Linked DNA regions of Homo sapiens: regions 2, 3, 4 and 5 are each linked to region 1. The links come from fine-mapping of genetic effects on gene expression. A gene starts in region 1. Each other region holds a variant in brackets. All regions are shown on one strand. Distances are between the middles of the regions.

What was found.
Region 2: its variant is fine-mapped to the expression of HK1 in whole blood (INTERVAL, PIP 0.97).
Region 3: its variant is fine-mapped to the expression of HK1 in whole blood (TOPMed, PIP above 0.99).
Region 4: its variant is fine-mapped to the expression of HK1 in whole blood (INTERVAL, PIP above 0.99). The same link has a PIP of 0.9 or more in blood mononuclear cells.
Region 5: its variant is fine-mapped to the expression of HK1 in whole blood (TOPMed, PIP 0.98).

Annotation. Positions count from the first base shown.
Region 1 is chr10:69,316,286-69,321,285 of GRCh38, forward strand. HK1 (hexokinase 1) reads left to right here and starts at 2,562. Exons shown (of 18, transcript NM_000188.3): 1 at 2,562-2,725. The coding sequence starts at 2,663. RefSeq lists enhancers at 1,576-1,805, 3,096-3,145, 4,731-5,000 and a silencer at 2,116-2,795.
Region 2 is chr10:69,237,152-69,243,663 of GRCh38, forward strand. HKDC1 (hexokinase domain containing 1) reads left to right here. Exons shown (of 18, transcript NM_025130.4): 5 at 1,891-1,986; 6 at 3,501-3,600; 7 at 6,031-6,214. Among named protein-coding and RNA genes, the nearest start is that of HKDC1, 20 kb to the left of the region's middle. The variant C/G (reference allele first, on the strand shown) is at 4,203.
Region 3 is chr10:69,350,178-69,356,689 of GRCh38, forward strand. All of the region lies in intron 2 of HK1 (hexokinase 1), which reads left to right. Among named protein-coding and RNA genes, the nearest start is that of HK1, 35 kb to the left of the region's middle. The variant C/T (reference allele first, on the strand shown) is at 4,378.
Region 4 is chr10:69,382,494-69,387,493 of GRCh38, forward strand. It overlaps HK1 (hexokinase 1), which reads left to right. Exons shown (of 18, transcript NM_000188.3): 10 at 1-298; 11 at 1,840-1,988; 12 at 2,303-2,422; 13 at 3,830-3,925. Among named protein-coding and RNA genes, the nearest start is that of TACR2, 32 kb to the right of the region's middle. The variant G/A (reference allele first, on the strand shown) is at 2,075.
Region 5 is chr10:69,337,217-69,342,216 of GRCh38, forward strand. The region is part of intron 1 of HK1 (hexokinase 1); the gene reads left to right. Among named protein-coding and RNA genes, the nearest start is that of HK1, 21 kb to the left of the region's middle. RefSeq lists enhancers at 1-552, 553-1,238, 1,927-2,612. The variant A/G (reference allele first, on the strand shown) is at 2,137.

The DNA.
Region 1 (5,000 bases):
GGGCCATGAAGGGATTTAGGGAAGGGTCATGACATGATTATGCTGCATTTTAGCAGGATTAATGTGACCTGGTGCTCAGAATGACTTGGATGGCATGAGGCCAGGAGCCGAGGAGGACAGTTAGAAGACTCTTGTAATATTTCTGGCACAGGGAGATGGACTGGGAGTTGGGAGGTGGCAATAGGTCAGGCCTAGAGACATTTCTCAGGAAATATTGACAGGCCTTGGGGCCTGGTTGCATTCATGGAGTGGGGAGGAATGAGTCACCTTGAGAAGCAGTTTCCCTCTCAAAGGCCAGGGAAGACAAAGCAGAGGCAGCTTTCCTGCCTGCAAACAGGACATTTCAGGGTAACCTGGCTCTTCCAAGCGTCAGCTTCTCCCTGGCTCCAGCTCAGATAGGAGTTGTAACAACGGGTTGGGCATGGGTGATGGCACCGGCTGGTGGCTGGGTTAAGGGCCATGTTTTTGATTATGCATTAGGCTTATTCAGCCTGCCAAGTGCCAGGCCCTGCGCTTGTGTAGGAGACAGAGCAATTAGCAAAACATAGTCCTCCATCCTCAAGGAGTTTCCAGCCCTGTGAGCTTGGCAGATCTGCAGAACTCAAATGAAATGGCAGTTGAGAACAACCATCTTGTTCTCATTCACTCCATTTTGCTTAACGGCCATGTAGGTAGTTCCAAATGTTTGATGTGTACCAGAAAATCTCTCTCTTCCTGGTTTATAATTATGATCCAGGGCAAATCCAGGTTTTGTTGGGCTTGAAAATTAAATAAATTGGCACTCTCTATGGAAAATAATTCAAATATAAATATACAAATATCACACTGCTAGGCCCTCCCAGGGCCTAGAAGGGTAGGAATGAAAGTGAGAGTCCCTGAAGCTTTAACCGCATTAACTTTTCAGTCAGTTCTATGATACCTGCCATTCCTTAAGTGTGTATTATGTGCACGTATTTTGCGTACAGTATTACACAACAATCAAGGGGAGGTGAGGTGGGCATTAGTGTCTTCATCTTATGGATGAAGACACAGTCTCAGAGGTGATTCAAGATGCCCCTCTGCATAGGCCCTAAGGCAGGGGGTGGGGACTGTGACCTGGACAGGAAGCTGGGGCCTCAGGACTGCATCTAAGCTCCTCCTTTTCTGTGGGTGATGGTGGCTGTCAGGCCCCTGAACCTACGTCATCCCTCCCTCTGATTTGACTGTACCTTTGCTAGGCCTGGTCAAGGGCTAGGGACTCCTAAAGTCAAGAGCTAGGGTAGAGGTTGGGGGTTGGATCTCAGGGCACCATATGGTGCAGACTTGGTTGCAGGAAAGTGACCTATTTAGGCAGAGGGGCTCTATACAACTGGGACCACAGCAAACCCTAGAGGTGAGCACCTGCTTCAAAGACTCACAGATCCAAGCTGTGATCCTAGATCTACAACTTCCTGGCTGTATAAAGTCCAGCAAGACTGAGGCCTCACTGAGCTTCAATTTCCTTACCTGTCTAACCAGAATAGCAACAACTTGTTTGTATATTTGAGCTCATTACATGTCATTTTGTAAGGCACTAAAGCTCCTGGAGGCTTCCGGAACACAGAAATAATTAATCTAAGAATCCTAAAGTGGCTGTCCTGGTAGCACCTCTAGGGAGTCCTCCCATCCTACGTAACTTCCTCTGGGAAAGTAGAAAACACGGCACCTGGGAAGGGGCGCTGAACCGTGCCCCAAGTCCCAGTGGGCCTGGATGCCCAAGAGCAAGAGGAGGCCCAGAGGATGGGGACAGGCCACGACCTGTGGCCCAAGTCCCGCCCAGAGGGAGTGCGCCCTGAGGGAGAGCCACCGGAGCTGGTGACTCGGGGGCGGGTGCTCTGGGGTGTCGCTTTGGGTTCAGCAATACAAATCTGCCAGCTGGAGATTAGGCGGGGCACGCCGGGGAGAGGTGATGCACTGCCGCTGAAGACCCAGGTAGGCCGGTGCGTTCGGCCTGGGTGAGGAAGGCGCGGGACCCGGGTGCGAGGACTGCGTAGCGTCCCCGGCTCCCGCTTCCGCCCGCTTTCCACGCCCACTTCTGCAAGTCCCCTCCGGCACCTCGGCGTCCACCGGACTCCTAGGGGCGAGCCCTCATTTCCGAGGAATGGGACCGCCTTCGTGCCCCCGGGGCTGCCAGTCCCTAGACTAGCCCTAGGGGCTTCTCGTCCCGGCGGAGCCGGGCGGTGCCTCCTGCCTGCGCCTCGCACCTCCCCGCCTGGCACGGCCCACCCGGGCACGGCGCCGCCACGCGTGAAGGCCCGCATCGGCTCCCTACGTGGGGGACGTGCAGGATGATGCGGGGTCGGGGGGGATTTCGCTGCGTCGCCCGCCCCCTTTCCGGCGCAGGAGGGAGCGGCCGCCGCGTCCCCGCTCCCCGGCCGGGACGCCACCGCCGGGCGTTGCAGAGGCGCGCCGCAACCAATGGGCGTGGAGGAGGTGGGTCGGCTGGCGGCTGTCACCCTCCAGGGGACGGGAGCGCGGAGACCGGGAGCGCGCGAGCTGTCGCCGCGCCCCGGGCCGAGGGGGAGGAGCCGGGGGAGGAGGAGGAGGAGGAGCCGCCGAGCAGCCGCCGGAGGACCACGGCTCGCCAGGGCTGCGGAGGACCGACCGTCCCCACGCCTGCCGCCCCGCGACCCCGACCGCCAGCATGATCGCCGCGCAGCTCCTGGCCTATTACTTCACGGAGCTGAAGGATGACCAGGTCAAAAAGGTGAGCCCCCGCCCGCGCCGCCGCTGGTCCTGGCCGCAGCCTTGCGTTCCGGCATCCGCTCGCCGCCTCCGCTGCCTCCATCCTCCGGCGCCCGGCCTTCTCCGGGCCAGCATCGAGTTGGACTGCAGGGCGCAAGGAAAGCCTTCGCCTTCGATTCTACCGGCATTGTCAGTGTCTCTGTGTGTGTGCGTTTTTGGGAGGGGGGCAATCGGGCGGAAGACCCCCGAGACCGGGCTGCCTGCTGCAGTGTCCTTGAAACGGGCCCTGGATGTCAGATAGGCCCCCGGGCTGTGCGGGGAGGTGGCCGGTGGGCCCTTCCGCAGGGCCTGTTCGGGAGGGTCCGAGCGCCGTGGGAGGAGGTGTGATCATGGAGATGCTGGGGAGGTGATCGAGCAGCAGGCGGGGGTGCTGGCTGGAGGCCAGGCCTCCCATATTTGGGGTTCCTGGCGGAGGGTGTCGGGTGCCCCGGAGAAGCTGTCGCCGGGCTCTCCCAGTTGTTTGAGCTGCTCGTTAATCTGAGGACGAGGTGACCCGCCCGGCTTCCCGGAACGGGGAGGGGCGGCGAGGCCACCGGAAACTTTGCTCATAGGCCTCGTGTCTGGAGCGGCACGTCTGAATGGAATTTTTTATTCCTCTTAAGCTGTAATTTCTAGCCAGCACAGGAGCTCAAATAAGCGACTGGTCATTTGAGTTGGGTGGACGCCTGTGGCATGCTTGTTCTAGCACTTGGACGCATGCATCCTCCTGTCCTGAGGTGTTGTTGCCTTTGACATCTTAGTGTAAAATACTGTCCGCTGGCAGGTCTTAAAGGTGTATTTGTCTCTTCTGCCAGCTGTGCTACCATATTTTAAAGAAACAGCCTAAGCTGTAGGGAAAGACGCCCGTTTTATCAGTGCCAGGTCTGGTACAGGCTCCAGGCCCACCCACCCTGAACGTGGTGACGTTATTGCTGGGGTTAGCTGGGATGGACTGGCAAAGTCATCTTGACTTTGGCGTTCAGACAGGTGGAGTTCTACAGGTGAAAGGCAGGAGTGACAGGCCTTGATTTTCTGCCCGGCAAGCCATAGGGTGTTCCATCCTCTTCCTGTGCATCTAAGATGACTCCCTCATCTGGCACCATAGGAAACAGGCCTACTGAGGGCAGCGACCTTATCAAGGTCACCCAGTGAGTTAGAGGCAGAGCCAGTCAGGGGGATCCAGGTCTCCCAGTGCCTCCACCCAGGAACTTCACCAGGGTCCTCCTGGAGGTCAGCTTCCAGGAGGGAGTGGGTACTGAGAGACAAAGCCGCTGGGGACCCTGCCGTGATCTTGGATCCCATGGTGGGTGGGGACCGGGAGTGAGGTAGGTAGGAGATAGGCTTGGGAATGCCATCTGCCATTGCTCTTTATGGCTTTAAGCACTCTGGGGTTGTCAAACCGTGGCACTCGAAACACTTGCTCCTATGGAGCACCCTGGAGCTTCCCTCTGGCCACTGACCTGGGAGCTGTGCGTGCGGGTGTGTGCATTTCATGAGTTTTCTCTAGTGGTGTTGTGCATCACTGATGTTCTTCCCATTGGACCAGGGAGACAGTTCTCCCGGCATGGCAAGAAGTGCCCAGAACAGGCCTCCTGAAGCCAAGAGTTCACTGTCCTCCTGCACGTGGTGTCCTTTATAGCTCAAGACAGTGGGCTGCTGGGCTGGGGGGTGCCTGGGTGACCTTGTAAACCTCCAGTGTCCACACCCACCACCACCCACAACAGACTGCTGGCTGTTGGCTGCCGGTGGCCTCCAGCAGCTGAGCTGGGCTGAGGTTTGGACTCCATTCAGTGGGACATGTTTTCTCAGACATACAGTGTCTAGGGTGGGCCCAGAGCTCTCCACTCCTGTGGGTGGCTCAATTCACATCTATGGATGCACAGTCTATCTCCTAGGCCCCCGTAGGTACCTGAGTGTGTGATTCAGTTGACCCTTCCATCCCTCCTCACTCCGAGTTTGGGATTCTGATGTTCTTCCCTTCTCTTCCCCGAGAACCTTGCTGGAGGAAGGTCTTAAGGCCAAGGTTTCCACCAGATATTATTTGTCAAGGAGATTCTTAAAAACAAGATGTTTGCTTGCATTTCACCACGGACTTCCTATGCTGCTTTCTATAGGGGAGTACGTGGATTCCTGCCAGGGGGTCCACTCATTTTGCATAGTGGACTGTGTGGCACAGCCATCTGTGGGTGTGGTCCTGGCTATGATTGCGCCACCGCACTCCAGCCTGGGCCTTCTAAGGACAGTGACATAGTGGGTAC
Region 2 (6,512 bases), 78 kb before region 1:
GCGTGAGAATTCTTATTATGTTTAACCCATAGCCAACATCATGAGCATAAGAATTAAAGGAAGTCACTTGGTTTTTTATTCTTGTTTTTGAGGGAACAGAAAGTCTTAACCAAAGAGAAATTTCTTTGTGTGTGTGTGTGTGTGTGTGTGTGTGTGTGTGTGTGTGTTTTCTGATAATAAAATAAATGGTAATACTTTTTTCAAGGTTTAAAAAAAGAGAGAGAGAAGGAATGGAAAAGTTTAAAGAAGAAAATAGAAATCACCACTCATCTCAATATTCAAATATTCCCACCACTAGAATTGTGGGTTTTTCTTTTACTCATACCTATATTAAATACAAGTGTTATCCTGTATCTACAGTTTAGCAAATCTATGGTTGATTCTAGTCACCAAATATTTGAGACAAAAAGAAAATGTACAGTTGTATGTAATTGCCTTTTTAATTTAACATTCTATCGCAAGCATTTATCCCTCACTTCCCCCATCCACCTTCCCTGCAACAGGGATTTTTGAAGAAAGCCAGCCTGTGCATCTCTCCCCGCTCTGTCCCTGGAGACAGGGATGTTGTCATAGCCTATGAGAGCAGAAGTTAGGGAGAGCTGCCACACGGCGGCGCTGTGGTGCAGGAAAAAAGCCCGAGGGCTGGTCCAGAGTCAGAGACCTGCATTCGGCTTGGGCTCTATCCTTCACTCGCGGTGAAATTCAGAGCAATTTCCTCCCTCTCTCAATCCCAGCGTTTTTAAATCCATAAATTGAGGGAAATGGAGGAGGTGCGGTCAGGAAGTTTGTGAGCCTGGGTCAGCTGCTCTTGACTGAGACGACTTGGGCGATTCTCTTTTAACTTCCAAGTTCTCTTCCAGTCTGAAACATTCTATGATTATTTGCGATTTCAGACACGAAACTCAGGAAACACCATTTGTAAGCAATGATTGGTAATGCAAATTGAGAACCATTTTTCTTTCTTTCTCTTTATTAAGAGACGAGGTCTCGCTATGTTGCCCAGGCAGGCCTGGAACTCCTGGCCTCAAGTGATCCACCTGCCTCAGGCTCCCAAGTAGCTGGGACTACAGGTACGGGCCACTCTGCCTGGTTGGGAATCATTTTTCTAAGTTGAAATGAAGTTCCTGAGACAATCCTGCAAGGTTACACCATGTTAGTTCTGTTTTGTGGACCTGGCAAACCATGCATTCTGCATGTATAATACACCAGGTATTTTCTTTTTTTTTTTTTTTTTTTGAGACGGAGTCTCGCTCTGTCGCCCAGGCCGGACTGCGGACTGCAGTGGCGCAATCTCGGCTCACTGCAAGCTCCGCTTCCCGGGTTCACGCCATTCTCCTGCCTCAGCCTCCCGAGTAGCTGGGACTACAGGCGCCCGCCACCGCGCCCGGCTAATTTTTTGTATTTTTAGTAGAGACGGGGTTTCACCTTGTTAGCCAGGATGGTCTCGATCTCCTGACCTCATGATCCACCCGCCTCGGCCTCCCAAAGTGCTGGGATTACAGGCGTGAGCCACCGCGCCCGGCCTACACCAGGTATTTTCATTAGAGCATTCCTTTGAGAGAGGTAGGGAGGTGACATTTCCACTTTGCAGAGGAGTAGACTGAGGCTCAGAGAGGTTAAACGACTTGTCTAATGTCTCATGAATCCAAGAGCTCTAACTTTTCAATAATTACTCCTTCTGCTACCATATATTTCAAACCACTCAGATGAGAGTAATAGTCCTTTAAATTATTAGAAAAGGCTGCAGAAGCAATGTTTTAAAAAAATTGGGGTGATTCAGCTTAGAGAAGAGAAGGCCATGGGGGATGCACGTAGGCATGAAGTTTCTGCGGCTCAGTTGCACATCTCAGCACGTCTTTCATTCAAACTGGACCTGAAATCTTCTCCCAGGGTGTCCTACTTTCGTGGACAAAAAAGTTTAAGGCACGAGGAGTTCAGGACACGGATGTGGTGAGCCGTCTGACCAAAGCCATGAGAAGACACAAGGTGAGGAATTCACCTCGGTGTGGGAGGCTCTCCCAGCCCTAGCTCCTTTCTCTTGGGTTGGTGGGGCTGGGGGTGAGGTGAGGGGGTCACATATGGTGCCTGCATGGAGGGAGAATCAGAGAAGGAATTGATCTTAGAAAAGGTCCCACTGTAGTACAGATGTGGCCAACTTGGATGAACCCACAGAGCCTTGGTAGGCGGGGCTTGCACCAATCCCTATTGAAAGGTGGCCAGCTCATCCCTGGGCCTCCCCAGCAGCCACAGCCCTCTCCGGAGGTCTTGGTTAGATCTGATGCTGTGTGTAGGCCCCACACGCCCTCCTCTCTGAGGCTGAAAAGATCATATACTTTCCGGGCTGGTTCCATATTCTTTCTGGGCTGGTTCTCTATTTCACTGTCCACTCCCTGTCCATTAAATATCCCTATTTGTTGAACGTATTTTACAATAATTTAAACTACTGCGAAAGCAAGACTCGCTCCTTGCTGAGCTGGAAAGTACACAAACCCAAATTGCTTGTTGCCCTGACAGCAAGAGGCATGTTTGCTGCATAGCCTTCCAGCCTTTTTTTCTTTAAAGCTGGGATCTTATTGTTTTATAGCCTGCATTTTCCCTTATTGTTTTCATTTTACTTTTTTTTTTTTTTTTTTAGAGATGAGGTCCTGCTGTGTTGCCCAGGCTGGCAGTGCCTGGCACTCCATCCTCGAATTCCTAGGCTCAAATGATCCTCCCACCTCAGCCTCCTGCATAGCTGGGACTATAGGCATAAGCCACATGCCTGGCTCTCATTTTACTTTAAAATGTTCTTCCAAACTTTGGGGGATGTTGGTGCAATAACCCAAGCTGACTTGGCAGAACAGGAAATCCAGACAGGAAGTCACCATGCCATACATGGGGAAGACTTGGCCGAGTCTGTGCCTGCTGGCTGAGTTGTCCCCGTGGGTGAGGACTTTGGTGTTTTCTCCTGGAAATGCCACTGGATAAACATGCTTTCCTCAATGTCTTCCCAGGATCTCACAAACAAAGGCTGAAACCTGGGTGTGATGTGTGCCTGTAGTCTCAGCTACTCAGGAGGCTGAGGCAGGAGGATCACGTGAGCCCAGGAGTTTGAGGCTGTGGTGTGCTATGTTTGTACCTGTGAACAGCCATCACACTCTAGCCTGGGCAACATAGTGAGACCCTATCTGCAGATTAAAAAATAAAATTTTTTAAATTAAAAAAAACATCGACAACAAAAAACAAGGGCTGGAGTCCCGGTGGCCTGTCCCTCATATTTCCATTGCAGAGGCCTTCACCCACAAAGCAAGAGGATGGGCTCCCCTCTTCAGCTCCTGTCGGCTCTTTCTCTCCCCTAGACCCTGAACCTTGATGAGGCCTTGCTCCTTCAGACAGGCCCAGCAGGCAGGATCTAGGGATGTCTCAGCAGCCACCTTCACTACCTGCTGCCTCTGTGGGGAAGGAGGGAGGGAAACACCTCCTTCCCACCCGCTGATTCCCTCTGGCCTTGTGTTCGGCAGGACATGGACGTGGACATCCTGGCCCTGGTCAATGACACCGTGGGGACCATGATGACCTGTGCCTATGACGACCCCTACTGCGAAGTTGGTGTCATCATCGGTAACTCAATTGGACTGGTTTTTTGAGGGTAGGGGAGAAGGGACTGTTTGGGAGTTTCATTTCAGCGAGCTCTGAGTGAATTCGGCGGGAAGGGCACTGCACTATTTAGGAGAAGCAACATAGGGACATGAAAAATTCATTCATTCATCCATTCGACAAGTGTTTACTGAGCACCCATTGTGTGCCGGCCCCTGGGCTTGGCACTGGGTTTGGAGTGGGGAGTTCCTGTGCTCCTGGAACTTTCAGTGGGGAGGTGGGTGAGAGGCCCAGAAGGCCTAGGCTATTAAGATAATTTCAGGTGGTGGTTAGCGTGATAAAAAAACAAAAAACAAAAAACAAAGAGAGTGATGTGACTGTGAGTGGGATGAGGCGTCAGGGAAGCCTCTCTGAGGGGTGGCATTTGAGCCGGGACCTCAGTGATGCAAACCAGGGAGCAAGGTGGAGGCCCGAGGGTAGGGAGTCCCTGCCAAAGGAAAGAGGACACCTACAGGCTTGGAGATGGGAAGGGGTCCAGGGAGGGGGCACTGGGGGAACCCTATAGCCGAGTGGTGTCCGGATGAGGTGAGTGAAGGCTGAGAGTCGGAGGCCATTCAAGTGAGAGG[C/G]AGAGGACAGACTGGGCAGATTGCACAGGATGTGCACACAGTCACTGTAAGGTCACCGGCTTATCCCCTGAGGGAGACTGGAAGGCACTGGGGGACTCTGGGTGGGGGATGGATAAATGGATGCGCATTTTATTTTATTTTTTTATTTGAGACGGAGTCTTGCTCTGTCGTCCAGGCTGGAGTGCAGTGGCACAGTCTTGGCTTACTGCAACCTCTGCCTCCCAGGCTCAAGCAATTCTCCTGCCTCAGCCTCCTGAGTAGCTGGGATTACAGGTGCCCACCACCACGGCTGGCCAATTTTTTGTATTTTTAGTACAGATGGGGTTTCACAGTGTTTGCCAGGCTGCTCTCAAGCTCCTGACCTCAAGTGATTCACCCGCCTTGGTCTCCCAAAGTGCTGGGATTACAGCCATGAGCCACCACGCCCGGCCGGATGTGCATTTTTTAAAAGCCCATTTTGGCTGCTGTGTGGATAATAGATTACTGGGGACAAGAGTGGAAGCAGGGTGACCATCCAAGAGACCACTGGACTGTCAGGCAAGGTGCACTGCAGCTGTGGACCAGAGAGGTCGTGGTGCAGTGGGGGTTTCCAGTGGGTGGTCTCCACACCAGAGCGAGGGGGTCAGCTGGAGGAATGTGTGGGAAGGCAGTTTGGGGTACAGTAAAGCTGAATGGCTCTGACTTATAGGTTGTTCTTGAATATCCCCTTCTCCTTTTCCCATTCCTTTACCACTCCTGGGGAAAGTTCTTCTGAATTGCTTTTTCTTAATGTCCCTCAAGACCCTCCTCAGCCTGGCTTTCCCAAAGGGCAGGTTTTTAAACCTGAGGGGCTCCCTCCACCCTTCTGTTTCCAGGAGCCTCAGAATGGTTCAGGCCCTTGCCAGTCATGGCACCCGCCTGTCACTGTGGCTGCGTCTGGTAACCACAGATTGGGGGGGCCACGCCTAAACAGTGTCCGTGCATTTCTGAGAAAAGCTTTTTCCAAATATTACATTCTGCTTTTCTACATTTCTCATTTTCCATGTTGGCATTTAAAATACTCATACCAGAGTATCAGCCAAGGGAAGATACTGAAGAAAAAAAAAAAAAAAAAAAAACCCGAAAATTCAAACAGCTTTATTGAGGCATAAAAGTCCTCCGATTTTAGGTATACGATTCAATGATTTGTAGTAAACGTATAGTTTTGTAACCATCACCACAATCCGATTTTAGAACATTTCTGTCCTCCCAAAAGAGTCCAAAAAGATGGTGCCCACTTGCAGTCATTCCCCAGTGCTCAAGTGTTTGAGGCATTTCCTTGGAGCGATTTTGTGTTTGCATAACGGAATGTTGCTTTCTTAGGTGGTAGCTAATCACAGTCTAAGATAAGGATGCAGCTTATGCTAGAAACAATTTGTGGCAGGCCATAAGTAAAGAATATTTTTAGTATCAAATAGAGAGGAAGCTAAGTAGCTTAAGGAAAGAATTTTCAAAATTACCCTGGGTTGGTGATTTTTTGAAAAAAATATTTACAAGATTATCTTCATTTGTCCTCTTGTAAGAGCGCTTCGTCAGCTTTCATCCATATTCATCAGCGGACTTCTTCACAATTGACTCCATTCAGAACAGCAAACCCTGAGCACCCTGAGAAGTGCAGACTTGACATGTCAGCTGTTTTCCCCATGTGCTTGGGGCTTGCCCAAGCTGCTTCCCTCAGCGAGAGCCAGCCCCCAGGGAATGAAAAGCACTTTGTGGTACATTGAGGAGGACTCCCCAGCAGTCAAGAGTTCTCTGTCTGTGCCCAGCTGGGAGTCCTCTCTCTGCATATTCTCTCTGATCCCTGGTTCAGGAACTGGCACCAATGCGTGTTACATGGAGGACATGAGCAACATTGACCTGGTGGAGGGCGACGAGGGCAGGATGTGCATCAACACAGAGTGGGGGGCCTTCGGGGACGACGGGGCCCTGGAGGACATTCGCACTGAGTTCGACAGGGAGCTGGACCTCGGCTCTCTCAACCCAGGAAAGCAACTGTGAGTTCCCTTCTGGTGTTATCTGGGCATCGGCACCAGGCAGTGCCTAATCACTCAGGTCCCCTGGCTACCTGGGAGGCTTTCCAGTTGTGACTAGCTATCCATCACAACTTTCTTTCTTTTTTTCTTTTTCCTTTTTTTTTTTTTTTGAGATGGAGTCTCACTCTCTAGCCCAGGCTGAAGTGCGGTGGCACGATCTTGGCTCGCTGCAACCTCCACCTTCCAGGCTCAAGCAATCCTCCCACCTCAGTCTCCAGAGGAGTTGGGACTACGGGCATGGGCCACCATTCCTGGCTAA
Region 3 (6,512 bases), 35 kb after region 1:
AATCACGATGGACAAGATGGGTGACTTGGGATGCCCCTGGATCCCATGCCTGGATTACGCATTGGTACCCCTGGAGCTGGAGTGGGGATTCAGCCCCACTTCCAACCTCATAGGTGAAAAATGGGAGGGTAGTTATCTAAAGAGATGCTGGACATCCAGGAAAGTTTATCAGTTATCTTGTTGTCCTTAACAGACATCATTCCTCAGTGTCTTTTGCCCGGCAGCGTATAGGACCAGCACTTTGGGAGGCCGAGGTGGGCGGATCACAAGGTCAAGAGATCGAGACCATCCTGGCCAAAATGGTGAAACTCCGTCTCTACTAAAAAATACAAAAATTAGTTGGGCGTGGTGGTGCATGCCTGTAGACCCAGCTACTCGGGAGGCTGAGGCAGGAGAATTGCTTGAACCCGGGAGTTGGAGGTTGCAGTGAACCAAGATTGCGCCATTGCACTCCAGCCCGGGCAACAGTGTGAGACTCCATCTCAAAAAAACAAACAAACAAAAACATGAAATAAATAAATGTTTAGGTGAACATTAAAACAGCAAATTAATTAAGTAAAATATTAAAATAAAAAGTACCGATCATTTCATCTCAGTGTAGTATTTGCTTTTGTGCCCCTTTTCCCCCTATGCACAAGTGGTTTATAGTTGTTTATCAGACTGAGCTTTCACTGTCTTCATTAGAGAATGAAGCAAAATAAAACCAAAGCTGGCCGGGCGCCGTGGCTCACGCCTGTAATCCCAGCACTTTGGGAGGCCAAGGCAGGCGGATCACGAGGTCAGGAGATCGAGACCATCCTGGCTAACACAGTGAAACCCCGTCTCTACTAAAAAAAAAAAAAAAAAAATTAGCTGGGCGTGGTGGCGGGCTCCTGTAGTCCCAGCTACTTGGGAGGCTGAGGCAGGAGAATGATGTGAACCTGGGAGGTGGAGCTTGCAGTGAGCCAAGATCACGCCACTGCACTCCAGCCTGGGCGACAGAGCGAGACTCCGTCTCAAAATTAAATAAATAAATAAATAAATAAATAAATAAATAAAACCAAAGCTAGGCCAGGCACGGTGGCTCACGCCTATAATCCCAGCACTTTGGGAGGCCAGGGCAGTCGGATCATCTGAGGTCAGGAGTTTGAGACCAACCTGGCCAAGGTGGTGAAACCTCGTCTCTACTAAAAATACAAAAAATGAGCTGGGCGTGGTGGTGGGTGGCTGTAATCCCAGCTACTGGGGAGGCTGAGGCAAGAGAATCGCTTGAACCCCGGAGGCGGAGGTTGCAGTGAGCCGAGATCGCGCCATTGCCGTCCAGCCTGGGCAACAAGAGTGAGACTCCGTCTCAAAAACAAAAACAAAAACAAAAAAAACAAAACAAAAAAACCCAAAGCTATAAGGAATCATGGAAGTTGAAGAGCCCCAGAAAAGAAGTGTAGCCATTCCTGATGTGCTGAAGTCTCTCTCTGGCCCCCACTTTCCTTGGGGATCCTTGTCCCTGAGTTCTGTCCAGGAGGCAGTTTTCATGGTTATACATTATGGCTTCGGATTCAAATGCTGACTCTGCCACTTACTGGTTGTGCGTTTGGGCAAGTTATCTAACCCCTCTTTACCTTTACTTGCTCATCTGTAGAATGGGCATCCTGACAGTACTGACTTCATAGGGTTGTGAAGATTGAAAATAAAAGGATACGTATAAGCACTTAGTGATTGGTACAGAAAGACTCAGTGAATGTTAGCTGATGGATGGTCAAATAAAATGTTTCTGATATTCTAGTGACTCACCTGCGAGGAGCTACTTCATACTGAATTCAATTTTTTCAGTTATTTCAATTTTTTTTTTTTTTTGAGACAGAGTCTTGCTCTGTTGCCCAGGCTGGAGTGCAGTGGCATGATCTCGGCTCACTACAACCTCCGCCTCCTGGGTTCAAGCGATTCTCCTGCCTCAGCCTCCTGAGTAGCTGGGATTACAGGCACCTACCACTACACCCAGCTAATTTTTGTATTTTTAGTAGAGACAGGGTTTCTCCATGTTGGCCAGGCTGGTCTCGAACTCCTGACCTCAAGTGATCCACCCGCCTCAGCCTCCCAAAGTTCTGGGATTACAAGCATGAGCCACTGCGCCCGGCTGAATTCAATTTTTTAACCTAGTGGTGGTGTAAAGTACTGTTGGAGTTAGGACTCCAATGGGAGCCCAAAGAAAATTCTATATTGATTTGAACAATGCCACAAAGTCGGGGTCAGAATTTCCACCAAATCTATGACACCTGCTTCCCAGCATTCTCCCTTGTTCTCTCTCTTTCCTTTGGACCACAAATAATTTAAAACCAGTGGCTTCATGTGATATATACATATAATGGAATATAATCGGTTCATAAAAAGGAATGAGGTACTGATCCACGCTACAGCATGGATGAGCCTTGAAAACCTTATGCCGGGTGAAAGAAGCCAGACACAAAGGACCTAATATTATACAATTCCACTTATATGAAATGTCTGGAATAGGGGCATCTGTAGAGCAGAAAGTACATTAGTGGTTGCTGGGAGATAGGGAGGTTGGGAGGAAATGGTGAATGGTTGTTAATGGGTATGGAATTTCTTTTGGGATGATGAAAATTTTCTAAAATTAGATAGTGGTGATGGTTGCACAACTCTGTAAATATGCTGAAAACCACTGAATTTTTCACTTTAAAATGGGTAAAAATTGTATGCTATATTATTATATCTCAATAAAACTGTTATTAAAAAAACAACCAACCAATATGTGAAATAATAAGAAATATACATGTTGGTCTCTGCCCCTAGTCTCTAGCATTTAGCTTCTAAAACCCTTGTAATTTCTTGAGCAATACAGGTGCTAGGAGAATCTTTGATCCTGGTCCTGACTCAGAGCTCCTAAATCCCTTGGAATTTCTTGGGTGATAGGAGAGTCTCTTTTGTTCCTTGGTGGGACCCTGGATAGCCTCAGGATGGGGGGCTGGTTGCCAGGGGGAACCAACCATGTGATCAGAGGGTTGCTGTCAGCCCCAACCCCCATGCCGCCTCCAGGGAGGGAGAGAGCCTGAAAATAGAGCGAATAAACCAATGGTCGATGATTTAATCAATCGCAACTGTGTAATGGTGCTTCCACAAAAACCTAAAACAGGCCAGGTATGATGGCTCACGCCTGTAATCCCAGCATTTTGGGAGGCCCAGGTGGGTGGATCGCTTGAGCCTAAGAGTTTGAGACTAGCTTGGGCAACATGGTAAAACCCTGTCACTACACAAAATACAAAAAAAAGTTAGCCAGATGTGGTGGCACGTGCCGGTAGTTCCAGCTACTCGGGAGGTTGAGGTGGGAGGATCGCTTGGGCTCTGGAGGTTGAGGCTGCAGTAAGCTGTGATCATGCAACTGCACTGCACTCCAGCCTGGGTGACAGAGTGTGACCCTGACTCAAAGAACAAACAAACAAAACCAAAAAAAAAAAAAAAAAGCAAAAAGAAGAAAACCTAGAATGACTGAGTTCTGGTAGCTTCTGTCTAGCTGAACACATGGAGGTTCCTGGGTGGCACATCTGGAGGGGGCATGGAAACTCCTGCCCTTTCTCCCATGCCCCTCCCTGTGTATCTCTTCCATCCAGTTCTTCATCTGTATTTATTGTAATATCCTTTATAGTAAATATGTAAATGTAAGTGAAGTGTTTTTTCTGGGTCTGTGAGCTGCCGTAGCAAACTAATGCAACCCAAGGAGGGGGTTGTAGGAACCCCGATTTATAGTGATCAGCCAGAAGCACAGGCCACAACCTGTGCTTGTGACTGGTGTCTGAAGTTGGAGGGAGGGCAGCCTCGTGTGAACGAGCCCTCGACCTGTGGGATATGATGCTATCTCCAGGTAGCTAGTGAAATAATTGAATTGAATTAGAGAGCATGGAGCTGGTGTTCACTGGAGAATTCACTGCAGAATTACTTGCTTGGTGTGTGGGGAAAAACCCACATGCATCCAGGGTCACAGGTGTGTTCTGTGTTGTGGTGAGTAGAGAAAAGGAAAAACATACTCTGGTTTTTCCTCTGTGTGTGTCTCACATGATGGCGTAACTGCTTTGTGCTTAATAAACAGCAAGCAGGGGTGCTGTATTAGTCCGTTTTCATACTGTTAAAAAGAACTGCCTAAGACTGGGTAATTTATAAAGGAAAGAAGTTTAGTTGACTCACAGTTCAGCATGGCTGGGGAGGCCTCAGGAAACTTACAATCATGGTGGAAGGAGAAAAGGCATCTTCCTCACAAAGCGGCAGGAAGGAGAAGTGCTGAGCGAAGGGGGAAGAGCTCCTTATAAAACCATAAGGTCTCATGAGAACCCACTCACTATCACGAGAACAGCATGGGGGGAACCACCTCCATGATTCAGTTACCTC[C/T]ACCTGGTCTCTTTCTTGATATGTGGGCATTGTGGGGGTTACAACTCAAGATGAGATTTGGGTGGGGACACAAAGCCTAACCATATCAGGTGCCTTGAATGAATGAATGGACCACCAGTCCCTGTGACCAGGCAGCTAATGAGCATTTGCTGAGCTGTCCTGGGTGCCAAGGACAGAGAATCCCAAGTTGTGGTCTTTCCCTCAAGGAACTTGAGAACGAAGATAGGAACAGGCTGGGCGCAGTGGCTCATGCCTGTAATCCTAGCACTTTGGGAGGCCAAGGCAGGTGGATCACCTGTGGTCAGGAGTTTGAGACCAGCCTGACCAACATGGTGAAAACCCATCTCTACTACAAAATACAAAAATTAGCCAAGCATGGTGGTGGACACCTGTAATCCTAGGTACTCGGGAGGCTGAGGCAGGAGAATCACTTGAACCTGGGAGGCAGAGGTTGCAATGAGCCAAGATCACGCCATTGCACTCCAGCCTGGGCAATGGAGGAAGACTCCCTCTCAAAAAAAAAAAAAAAAAAAAAAAAGATAGGAACAGTGACATTCAATGTGAGAATTCCTTGGTTTGTTGTTTATTTCTTTATACCTTCATTAATTCCACAAGTATTTGCTCAGTTTTTACCTACATTCCAAACACCATTGTAAGTTCCAGAAATATAGCAGTGTGTCAGGGCTTATAGCTTGGTAGAATCAAATACAAAGATAAGTCAGCTTTATTGTTAAAAACAGAAAGCAAACCTTATTTTGTGTTGAAAATCAAAAGCTCAAGGGACCCAGAATAACCAAAGCAATCATGAAAAAGAAGAACAAAGCTGAAGGAATTTCACTGCCAATTTCAAAATTTTCAGCAAAGCAACAGTAATCAAGACATGTGGTACTGGCATGAAGGTAGACATGCAGACTAATGGAACAGAATAGAGAGTTCAGAAATAAATGCATACAGGCTGAGTGTGGTGGCTCATGCCTGTAATCCTAGCACTTTGGGAGGCCGAGGCTGGTGGATCACCTGAGGTCAGGAGTTTGAGACCAGCGTGGCCAACATGGTGAAACCCCGTCTCTACTAAAAATACAAAAAAATTAGCCAGTTGTGGTGGCACACGCCTGTAATCCTAGCTACTTGGGAGGCTGAGGCATGAGAATTGCCTGAACCCGGGAGGTGGAGGTTGCAGTGAGCCGAGATCATGCCACTGCATTCCAGCCTGGGTAGCATTCCAGCCTGGGTAACAGAGTGAGACTTTGTCTCGAAAAAAAAAATAAATGCATACATTACGGTCAATTGACTTTTGACAAGAATGCTAGGACTATTCAATGAGGGAAAGAATAGTCTTTTCAGCAAATGGTGCTGGGACACTGGATATCCACATGCAAAAGAATGAAGTTTGACCTACACCTCATACCATATATAAAATTAACTTGAAATGGATCAAATACCTAAATGTGGGAGCTAAAACTAATAAAACTCTTAGAACGAAATACAGGTTTGAATCTTTGTGACCTTGGATTTGGCAATAGAGTCTTAGCTACAACTCCAAAAGCACAAACAATAAAAGAAAAAACGTAAAACTGGACTTCATCAAAATTTAAAACTTGGCCATGCTTGGTGGCTCATGCCTGTAATCCCAGCACTTTGGGAGGCCAAGCAAGAGGATCACTTGAGCGAAGGCATTTGAGACAGCCTGGGCAACATAGTGAGACCTTGTCTCTAAAAAAAATTAAAAATTAGCCAGGTGTGGTCGTATGCCTGTAGTTCCAGCTACTTGGGAGGCTGAGGCTGGAGGATTTCTTGAGTCCAGGAGGTCAAGGGTGCAGTGAGCCATGATTGCACCATTGTACTCCAGCCTGGGCAACAGAGCAAGACCCTGTCTCAAACACAACAACAACAAACATAAAATGTTACTGCATCAAAGGATACCATAAAAAAAAGAAAAGACAATCCACTGAATGGGAGAAAATATTTGCCAGTCATATGTCTGATAAAGGATTTGTATCTAGAACATAAAAAGAACTTTTACAACTCAACACATAAAAGACAAATGAGGCCGGGTGCGGTGGCTCACGCCTGTGATCCCAACACTTTGGGAGGCCGACGCAGGCGGATCACAAGGTCAGGAGTTCGAGACCAGC
Region 4 (5,000 bases), 66 kb after region 1:
CGGCGTTTCCACAAGACTCTAAGGCGCTTGGTGCCAGACTCCGATGTGCGCTTCCTCCTCTCGGAGAGTGGCAGCGGCAAGGGGGCTGCCATGGTGACGGCGGTGGCCTACCGCTTGGCCGAGCAGCACCGGCAGATAGAGGAGACCCTGGCTCATTTCCACCTCACCAAGGACATGCTGCTGGAGGTGAAGAAGAGGATGCGGGCCGAGATGGAGCTGGGGCTGAGGAAGCAGACGCACAACAATGCCGTGGTTAAGATGCTGCCCTCCTTCGTCCGGAGAACTCCCGACGGGACCGGTGAGGGCCTGCTGGGGGCTGACATGCCTGTCCTGCTCCTGCCAGGAACTGAGCCGCAGTGGGGGAGGTTGGATTCGCCAGTGGATGCCTTCACACTGGTGATGCACGATTTTGCCAGAGCTAGAAACTCCCTCACATCTCTGTTTTCCATTTTTATTAACTGATTTGTCATGTGTGTGACTCAGGGCAGTTTAATTTTCCTGGTCAGACCTCCCAGGCAAGTGCTATCTCTAAAACCACAGCCCTGCTCAGAACAGTGCTCTTAGCTGGGCAAGGTGACACACGCCTGTCATCCAGCTACTTAAGAGGCTGAGGTGGGAGGACTGCTTGAGCCCAGGAGTTCAAGACCAGTCTGGGCAACATAGCAAGACCCTGTCTCAAAAAAAATTAAATGAATAAAAAAGAAGTGTTCTTAAAAGCTGGGCAAATCCCACAGCACTGATTAGGTTTTCCCAAAGCCAAGGAAAGCCAGCAGAAGGATAAACACTCAGTGTACCCTTCTTAAATCTTGATAGAGTATGCATGAGGCATTCAGGGCCTGGGGAGTTTCGCATTCAGGCAAATTGTAGAACAAAATCCAACCCTTTATGCTAACCTTGGTAGTTTTCACTGGAGCTGATCATTATGGGGAATCTGAAGAGCTTTTCAGGTGGGTCCTTGGAGTAACGAATGTTTGTGACAGGAATGTGTCCTATGTGTAAGTTACCTAATACCACATTATAAGCCACCCTCACACTTAGTGGCTTAAAACAACCACGCTTTATTATTGTTCATGCATCTGTGGGTCAGTTGGACAGTTCTGCTCATCAGGGCCAGGATTGGCTGACCTCTGCCGGCCTCATTCCTGCATCTGCAGTCAGCTGTTGAGTCAGCTGGGAGGCAGATCTCAGACGCCCTTCCCCACATGTCCAGCAGTTGGCTGTCAGCTGGGGTGCAGGGGCCCCTGGCCCTGTGTCTCATCCTTCAGTGGGCCACCTGGCTGTTCAAGTGGTGGCAGCAAGGGCTGCGAGGGAGAGGGGAAGACTTCAAAGCCTCCTGGAAGCCCAGGCTGGGGATAGGTTCAGCTTTGCCTCTGCCACACTCTGTTGGCCTGAACAATCCTAGGGCTGGGCTAGATCCCAGGGGAGGAGAAATTGACTCCATGTTTCAGTGGGAGGAACTGCAGTCATGTTGCAAAGAAGGATTTTGCACATGCAGGGAAGGGAATGATGCAGCTGTTTTTGCAAATACCCCACACCTTGACATAAATTATTATTTTTTGTAGGAGATTTTCATTGTTGCAGCCCTGGTGAAGTCTGTGTATTGTGACAGGTGGTTTACTCACATGCTCTCCTCCCAGTGTGGCTCCAAGTCTGTGGTGGTCAGAGATGTGGTGCCCACTCTTCCTCTGAGTCTGTGCTGTGTCCTAAAGGGAGGAGTTGCAGCTTCTCCTCTATGTTTGCTATGGGGTTCTCCCCTTGAAAGTCTGGAGTCTTGGGGTTACTGGCTGCCAAGAGGCACTTAGCTGTTTTTGACATTCTTTACGCTTTTGACTGCAACAGAGAATGGTGACTTCTTGGCCCTGGATCTTGGAGGAACCAATTTCCGTGTGCTGCTGGTGAAAATCCGTAGTGGGAAAAAGAGAACGGTGGAAATGCACAACAAGATCTACGCCATTCCTATTGAAATCATGCAGGGCACTGGGGAAGAGGTGAGATTACAAAACCATAGTGCATGTGCACTGCACACACGGCCAGTGGCACCGGCAGTCACGTGATGACCAAAATCCGCCACGGG[G/A]TGCCCACATGGATTTGTGTCCTTGTGGCCCAGAAGCACCAGATGCTTTTTGCCATGCCTGGCTTGTGACACTCTGGTGGCTGAGAAGATTCTGGAAAAGGAGGCTCACTCTGCATGTGTGTGGGGTGTGTTTTCCTACGTGTGTGTGTGTATACACACTTTGGTCCATGTGCACTGATAAAATTAAAACCACAGAGAGCACGGGCGATCCTTTCTTTTCCCCTGCAGCTGTTTGATCACATTGTCTCCTGCATCTCTGACTTCTTGGACTACATGGGGATCAAAGGCCCCAGGATGCCTCTGGGCTTCACGTTCTCATTTCCCTGCCAGCAGACGAGTCTGGACGCGGTGAGTCTCTGTTCTTAGGGCTCAGTGATCGGGCAGCACTGAGTCCCCTGTGGCCTGGGTGGGCTGGCCCTTGAGGCCTTCTCCAGCCTCAGTGTCATTCCTAGATGACAGTCACAGTCACAGTGGGTTGAGCCAGGCTTTATTTCACAGCCTGCAGGGCATACTGAGACTCTTCTCTCTTCTTTTCTCTTTGAAAGCGTCACCTTTTCTGGGAAACCTTCTGGTCCTCCAAGCAAAAAAAGAACCTCATCCTCTTCTGTGCCCCCTGTTCATTTGATTGTTGCCTTGCTTATAACACTTCTTACACAGTTAGTTCTTAGTGTCTTTTGTTTCTGCTAGTGGTAGACTCCGTGAGCAAGGACCTGTATCCCTGCACGCCCTAGCACAGTGTCCAATCAGAGGAGATAATAAATGTTTGTTCAATATATGAGATGAATCAGGGTCCAGGATCAGAGCTTGAGCACCTGCTGACTACTGATTGGCTGGGCTCAGAGCTGAAGGTTACAGCTCCTGTCCTTTGGAAGGCCACAGTCTAGTGGGGGAGCCGAGTCCCTAACACCAGCAGCTCCAGCTCCATGCTGTCAGGGCTGGGGAGTGGATTCTGGGCAGAAGGAACCAATGGTGCAGAGTCACGGAGGCAAGACCCAGCCTGTCACGCTGGAAGAGCTGTAGGTAGCTCTGGGTGTCACAGGTGGAGACGTGACCAGGCAGGAGTTCTGGAGGTGGGTCTTAGGCCAGGGTTTAAGGCTTAATGAGCAGCCCTAGGAGAGTTAGGTAGGGTCACCTACCTCTGTAAACCAGTTAATCCAGTTACATCGCTGACTTGGGACTTTTTTCTTCTGAAACCCTTTTAGAGCTCAGGAGTTAGATCTGTTTGTTTGTTTTTAAAGCATTTCACTTATACCTTCACCTTGGATTCATCATAGTCAACACACACCCAGTGTACTTTCTTCCCCAGGAAGTGTTTTAACTTCAATCCAGTGAAAGCTAAAATGTACTTTAGGTAGACACAGTATTACTAAACTCTTAGGATCCTTCAGTTATAGTGTCAGTAGACTCTTCTGTACAGCTGGTTATGCCAGTGGCAGCACCAGGCTTGGAATCGGGTGATCTGGGCTCTTGTCCAGTATTGAGTGCCGTCTTTGCCGTCTGCTGAGTGAACTTAGACATTGCTATTTACCTAATGTGCCTCATGCTCCATCTGTGAAGTGGGATTATTTCAAACCCCTATGAGGATGGTGAGGAGGGTCTATTCATATTTTATTGGTTTGTCCTCAGATGTTTGAACTCCGTCTCCGATGTTGTAAGCCCTCAGCAGTTGTTGACTCAGGAGGGAGGGTTGGAATTTTGTGTTCTCCCCTTCCAGGTTAATTACACAGGACTCTCCTGGTGCTTTTTATGTTGTAGGGAATCTTGATCACGTGGACAAAGGGTTTTAAGGCAACAGACTGCGTGGGCCACGATGTAGTCACCTTACTAAGGGATGCGATAAAAAGGAGAGAGGTAACTATTAAAAGAATGTTTTTTAAAATCTTTACTGTTTTAGGGGCTTCTAAAAAGTGTATTTGCCTGTTGTAAAGAATTCAGGCCAGGCGTGGTGGCTCACGCCTGTAATCCCAGCACTTTGGGAGGCCGAGGCGGGTGGATCATGAGGTCAGGAGTTCTAGACCAGCCCGGGCAATATGGTGAAACCCTGTCTCTACTAAAGTTACACAAATTAGCCAGGCGTGGTGGTGCGCACCTGTAGTCCCAGCTACTCGGGAGACTGAGGCAGAAGAATCGCTTCAACCCAGGAGGAGGTTGCAGTGAGCTGAGATCACGCCACTGCACTACAGCCTGGGCGACAGAGCAAGACTCCATCTCTAAATAAATAAATAAATAAATAAATAATACATAAAAAAGAATTCTAACAATACAGAAGTATGTGACCTGGCCAAGAAAAGCTCCCTATTTCCTGACTCCACTGCCCGCAATAAAATAAGGGCTCATAGGTTTGTGTTGTTAAAAGATTATTATTATTTTTTTTTTAGAAAGGCAAATCATGACTCTCATACAAATTGAAAAAGAGAGAAGCAGCCCCTGACAGGTGGGCACAGCCTGGCACTCTCAGTTAGGCCTTGGTGTTCTCCTGTGGAACACAAACAATTTCACAGAGTCCACAAACAATTGCAGAGCAGAAACATCAGACACAGCCACTCCGTCCGGGACCATGATGGATTTAGACAAGAATAAGACCAGTCTGTAACCATAGAATTGCCCCTGGTTCCTGACAATATCCAATCCAGAGCAAAGCCCCACTTCTTTAAACCTTCCCCCAAACCACAACACAGACACAGATCCAAATTAAACTTTTTTAAAAAAAATTTTTAGAATTTTAAAGTTTCCTTTTTTGAGACAGGGTCTTACTCTGTCACCCAGGCTGGAGTGCAGTGGAGCAATCTTGGCTCACTGCAACCTCTGCCTCCCAGGCTCAAGCGATCCTCCCGCTTCAGCCTCCCTAGTAGCTGGGATTACAGGTGGGCATCTACATCTGGCTAATTTTTGTGTTTTTGGTAAAGATGGTGTTTTGCCATGCTGC
Region 5 (5,000 bases), 21 kb after region 1:
AGGAAAATGGAAATGCTTAAGGTGAAGCCCCAAATGGGAGGTTACGAGCCCTGGAATCTAGACCCAGCTGCCATTTCTAAACTCCCCAACTTAGCTTGAATCATGGGTCTGTTTCCTCTCCTAGATAATGGAGATAATGATGTCTTTCCTGCCTACTTCACTGGGCTGCAGTGACAGGAGAAAGGGAACTAGCATTAAAGCACCTGCTTCCTGCGTGGCACTTGGCATCCACAAGCTCATTTCACTTCTTTCTACACAGTTCAAATGGGATAATGTATGTGAAGGTCCTGTATCTGAAGGGCCAGTGCACATGTGAGCCATTGCTAATTGTGATGTTAATAAGCACCCAGGACCCGTTCTCTCTGAGTCAGTGTCCTTAGCAAAGGGAAGTGAATTCTGATGTTGAAATCTCTGTCCTCCCCTAAGCTAACATCTTTCTTAACCCTTCAGGGTGCACGCCACAATTTCCTTTTGTAAGTGGAGCGCCTTGCTTGGAAAGTTCATTTTAAAGGCCTGCGTCAGCAGCTTCAGTCACGCCTGCTGTTCTGCAGCATTCTCGATCCTCACGGGAGGGTGGATGAGAGAGGGAGTGAAATTTTCCATGGCTGTGCACCCTTCCACGGGGTGGGGTGAAAATGGCTGGGATGGTTACCAGTGGTTACTGGTGCCTCCTGCTGCGACCGGCCTGTTCACTTGGGCATGTCCAATCTTGCGTTTGTTTTTTGTGCATGTTCTGTTGGGAGCAGGAGGTGGGGCTGGGGTCGGGCACAGAAATGTTTGTGAGTTGATTGCAGTGCTAGGCCATTGAGTTCTTTCCTTGGTTGGAGGGCTCTGAGCCAGGGAAGCTTGGCGAGGCTGTGTGTTCTCTGCTGATGACATGTCCTCCTGCTCTGCGGGGGTCCAACTTTGGGAGCCGCTGAGAGCTTCAAGGCCCCCTTGGTCCACAAGAAGGAGAATCCAGGACAAGTGTCTGGAAAGTGTTTGAGCAAGAGCGCCCGCCCTGTGCAGCCGGTCTGGCTACCCTCATAGGAAGGGCTCTTCACTCTGGGCAGCGGTGGACAGAGGCCCTGGAGGCTGGATGCGGGTTCTCAGGCAAGAGTCTGAGGGACCCAGCTCGGTGTCTGATGTCTGGTGTCTGGGACTGGGCGCCTTCCCATTTCCATCCCAGCCTGACCAGACTGACCAGAGTCCCACATATTCGTCTCAGACACTGGTTTGAGAGGGAGCATTTGAGGGCCTGGGTTTCTGTCATGACTCCTGGGAACCTCTGTCTTCTGATAGATGGTCCACAGACCGAGGCTTGCAGTGGAAGCAGCTGGAAGTGGTGCTGTGCGGTGTCCTCCCCAACTCCCAAATGGAGTGTGGGGAGGGATTCTTCGGGCACTGATGTTTGGCTGGAGCAGTAAAGCAGCGGTGATGTGGAGGCAGCACCTAAGAGAAGGGGACAGGATTATGGAGATGTGAGTGTGTGTGTGTGTGTGTGTGTGTGTGTGTAAGTACTTGTGTGTGTATGTGTGAGTGTGTGAGAGTGTGTGTGTGTGAGAGATTGTGTATGTGAGAGTGTGTGTGTGTAGAGAGAGAGGGAAGAGGGGAAAAGGAAGGAGGAGAGTAAAGATCTGGAGATGCTGTGGAGAGGAGGACAGAAATAGAAAAGTTGAAAGGCCAGACTTTGGCCAAATCCCCAAAGACCAAGAGTCAGCCTTTCTTCCTGGGTTTCTGGCAGAGATCTGGAGCAACTGGGCAGGAGAGATTTCTCCAATGCCCTTTCTTCCTCCCTCTCTCCTTCAACCCACTGCCCATTCCCAGCCTCTTTCCCAGGGAGACAGGCGTGGTCCAGTGGAGTGCCAGGAGGGGCTGGTCTGAACGAGGAAGATGCGTTTTGCTCAGTGAAGTGCTGGGTTCTCTGGGCCCCTGGAAGTTTTCTGCAGGTGTCTCTAGTCATGTGCTTTTCTCCAGTGCCTCCGGGCCACTTAAAGGCCCACAGTCCAGAGGGGCATGTCTGCTGAGTCCTGCACCAGGTGCCTGCCTGGCTGGGCAGTGTGGCAGATACCAGGGAGCTGACTTCTCCCCTGGCAGCCCAGCCCCAGGCCTAGGGTATTTGCTGGTTCAGTGGCCCCTTCTGATCTCCCGAGGACC[A/G]GTGGAAAGAAAGGGCTTCCCTTCATTGTCCTCATTCATGTAAAATCCAGGAGGCCCCAGTTTCAGTTCCGGCCTTGCCTCAATTGGGCCTCCCTTTTGGCCCCAGTATTCATGTCTCTTCTGAGAGGGGTTGTACCTCATGACGACTCATGAACCTGAACAAAAGGAGGAAAACCCTCCCTCCATAGCAGCTTGAGGACCAGGCCGTTCTCTGTGTCTGCAGCCTGCTTTTTGATTTGAGCTTCTAAGCTTTATTTGGATTTAGCTTGGTTGTCCTGAAACGTTGGGGTTTTTGGATCAATGTCTGTGTGCTGAGCTGCACCTTGACTTAGAAGGCAGGATAGCTGTGGAGTTATGGAGAGCTGCCTTTTCTAGAAGCTTCTCCTGTCCAGCGGGAAAACCCCAACAGCTCTACTTGGATCTGCCTTCTGCAGAGCAGGGGACCAGTCTTTCTTAAGGGGCAGGGATGATTGTATGGAGGAGCCTTAGACTTGCAGGTATAAAACCTCACTCCCCCAGCTGTGTGCTTTGAACTAATCACTTAGCTTCTTGGACCATCAGTTTCTGTGTCTGTAAAATGGGGATTAAGAACATCTCCCAGACAGTTTTGAAGGTTAAATGACATACTGGATCTTGATATACTGATATACTGTAAGCCACAAGAGAATTATATAGTATTATTCCAGGATCCAGCATTGTTTGAATTCCTCCTTTGTGTCAAGCAACTGGGTGAGTTCCAAAGGTCTATTCAATATGTTTTCTTTCCCTGGGGAACTCACGCAGTATCATAGGAGATGGACAGCTTGGTAAAAGGATAATCATGATGTGTGAGGAGTGTGGTCGTTGGGGCGTGTCCAAAATGCTGGAGTAGCAATGTACCTTTTTTAAAATTAAAATTAAAAAAAATTTTTTGAGATGGAGTCTTGCTGCATTGCCCAGGCTGGAGTGCGATGGCGCGATCTTGGCTGACTGCAATCTTCTCTACCTCCTGGGTTCACGCGATTCTCATATCTCAGTCTCCTGAGTAGCTGGGATTACAGGCATGCACCACCATGCCCAGCTAATTTTTGTATTTTTAGTAGAGACCGGGTTTTACCATGTTGGCCAGGCTGGTCTTGAACTCCTGACCTCAGGTAATCCACTCGCCTCGGCCTCTCAAAGTTCTGGGGTTACAGGCATGAGCCATTGCTCCCGGCCTTAAAATTAAAATTAAAAAATATTTTAGAGGTGCGATATCACTATGTTGCTCAGGCTGGTCTTGAACTTTTGGGCCTAAGCAATCCTCCTGCCTCGGCCTCCCAAAGTGCCAGGATTACAGGCATGAGCCACTGTGCCAGCTAGCAATGTAGCTTTTATTGTATGATCTTGCGCTTGCTCCTCCATTCTCCACGCAGCAGACACACAACTCTCATCATGGTTGTAATCAGTAAAGCCGTCCCAAGGCTCGCTGTGCTGTGGGATCCCGCTTGTATTTGTTTATGTGGCTCATCAGGCCCTGTGTGGTTGAGCTCTGGACAGTCTTTCCAGGCACACCGTCTGCTTGTTCATCACAAAAACCACCCTCCCTCCCCTTCGGACTTCACACATGCCCTTGCTTGTGCCTGGGCATGCTCTCCAACTTCGCCTCTCCAGGAAGCCTTCTCTCCCATGCTTGCAACGTGGCTGTCTCTCCCTGCAGACCCAGGGCACTATGATGGCAAGGGCTGCTGATGAATGCCACCAGCCAGAATAGGGCATGGCTTGTCTCTCCTCCCAGGGCCATGTTTTTGGCAATTTTATTTCCTTTAAAAAATATATATACATATTTCTTTCTTTCTTTTTTTTTTGGAGACTGGATCTAAGTCTGTCACCCAGGCTGGGGTACAGTGGCAGGATCATAGCACCCTGCAACCTCTGCTTCCCCAGCTCAGGCAATCCTCCCGCCTCAGTCTCCCGAGTAGCTGGGACTACAGGGGCGTATCACCACGCCTGGCTAATTTTTGTATTTTTTTAGAGACGAGGTTTTGCCAAGTTTCCCAGGCTGCTCTCGAACTCCTGGCCCCAAGCAATCTGCCTGCCTTAGCCTCCCAAAGTGTTGGGATTACAGGTGTGGGCCACTGCTCCTGGCCAATTGTTAATTTTTTTTTTTTTTAGAGACAGTCTCACTCTGTCACTTAGGCTGGAGTACAGTGGTTCAATCATGGCTCAATGCAGCCTCAACCTCTTGGGCCCAAGTGATCCTCTTGCCTCAGCCTCCCGAGTAGCTGAGACTACAGGTGTGCATCACCATGCTGGGCTAATTTTTATTTTTTGTAGAGACAGGGTTGTTGCCCAGGCTAATCTCGAACTCCTGGGCTCAAATGATCCTGCTGCCTTGGCCTTGCAAAGTTCTAGAATTACAGGTGTCAGCCACCATGCCTGGCCTCTTCTGGCAATTTCTATTCTGGCTCTTGGTGGTTCCTGATTGCCCTTCTTTGAGCTGCTTTATTGTAAAGGGAAAAAGGTGGTAGGGCTAGTGGTTAGGAGTGGGGGCAAGGATCATCCTTGGGCGCAGAGAGTGTTGGCAGACATTTTGGGAGGCCTAGGTGGGTGGATCACTTGAGGTCAGGAGTTTGAGACCAGCCTGGCCAACATGGTGAAACCCTGTCTCTACTAAAAATACAAAAATTAGCAGGGCGTGGTGGCGCACGCCTGTAATCCCAGCCACTCAGGAGGCTGAGGCAGGAGAATTGCTTGAACCTGGGAGGTGGAGGTTGCAGTGAGCCAAGATTCTGCCACTGCATTCCAGCCTGGGTGACAGAGATAGACTATGAAAAAAAAACCAACCCCAAAAACAAACAAACAAACAAACAAACAAACAAACAAAGGAAAAAACACCAGTGTTA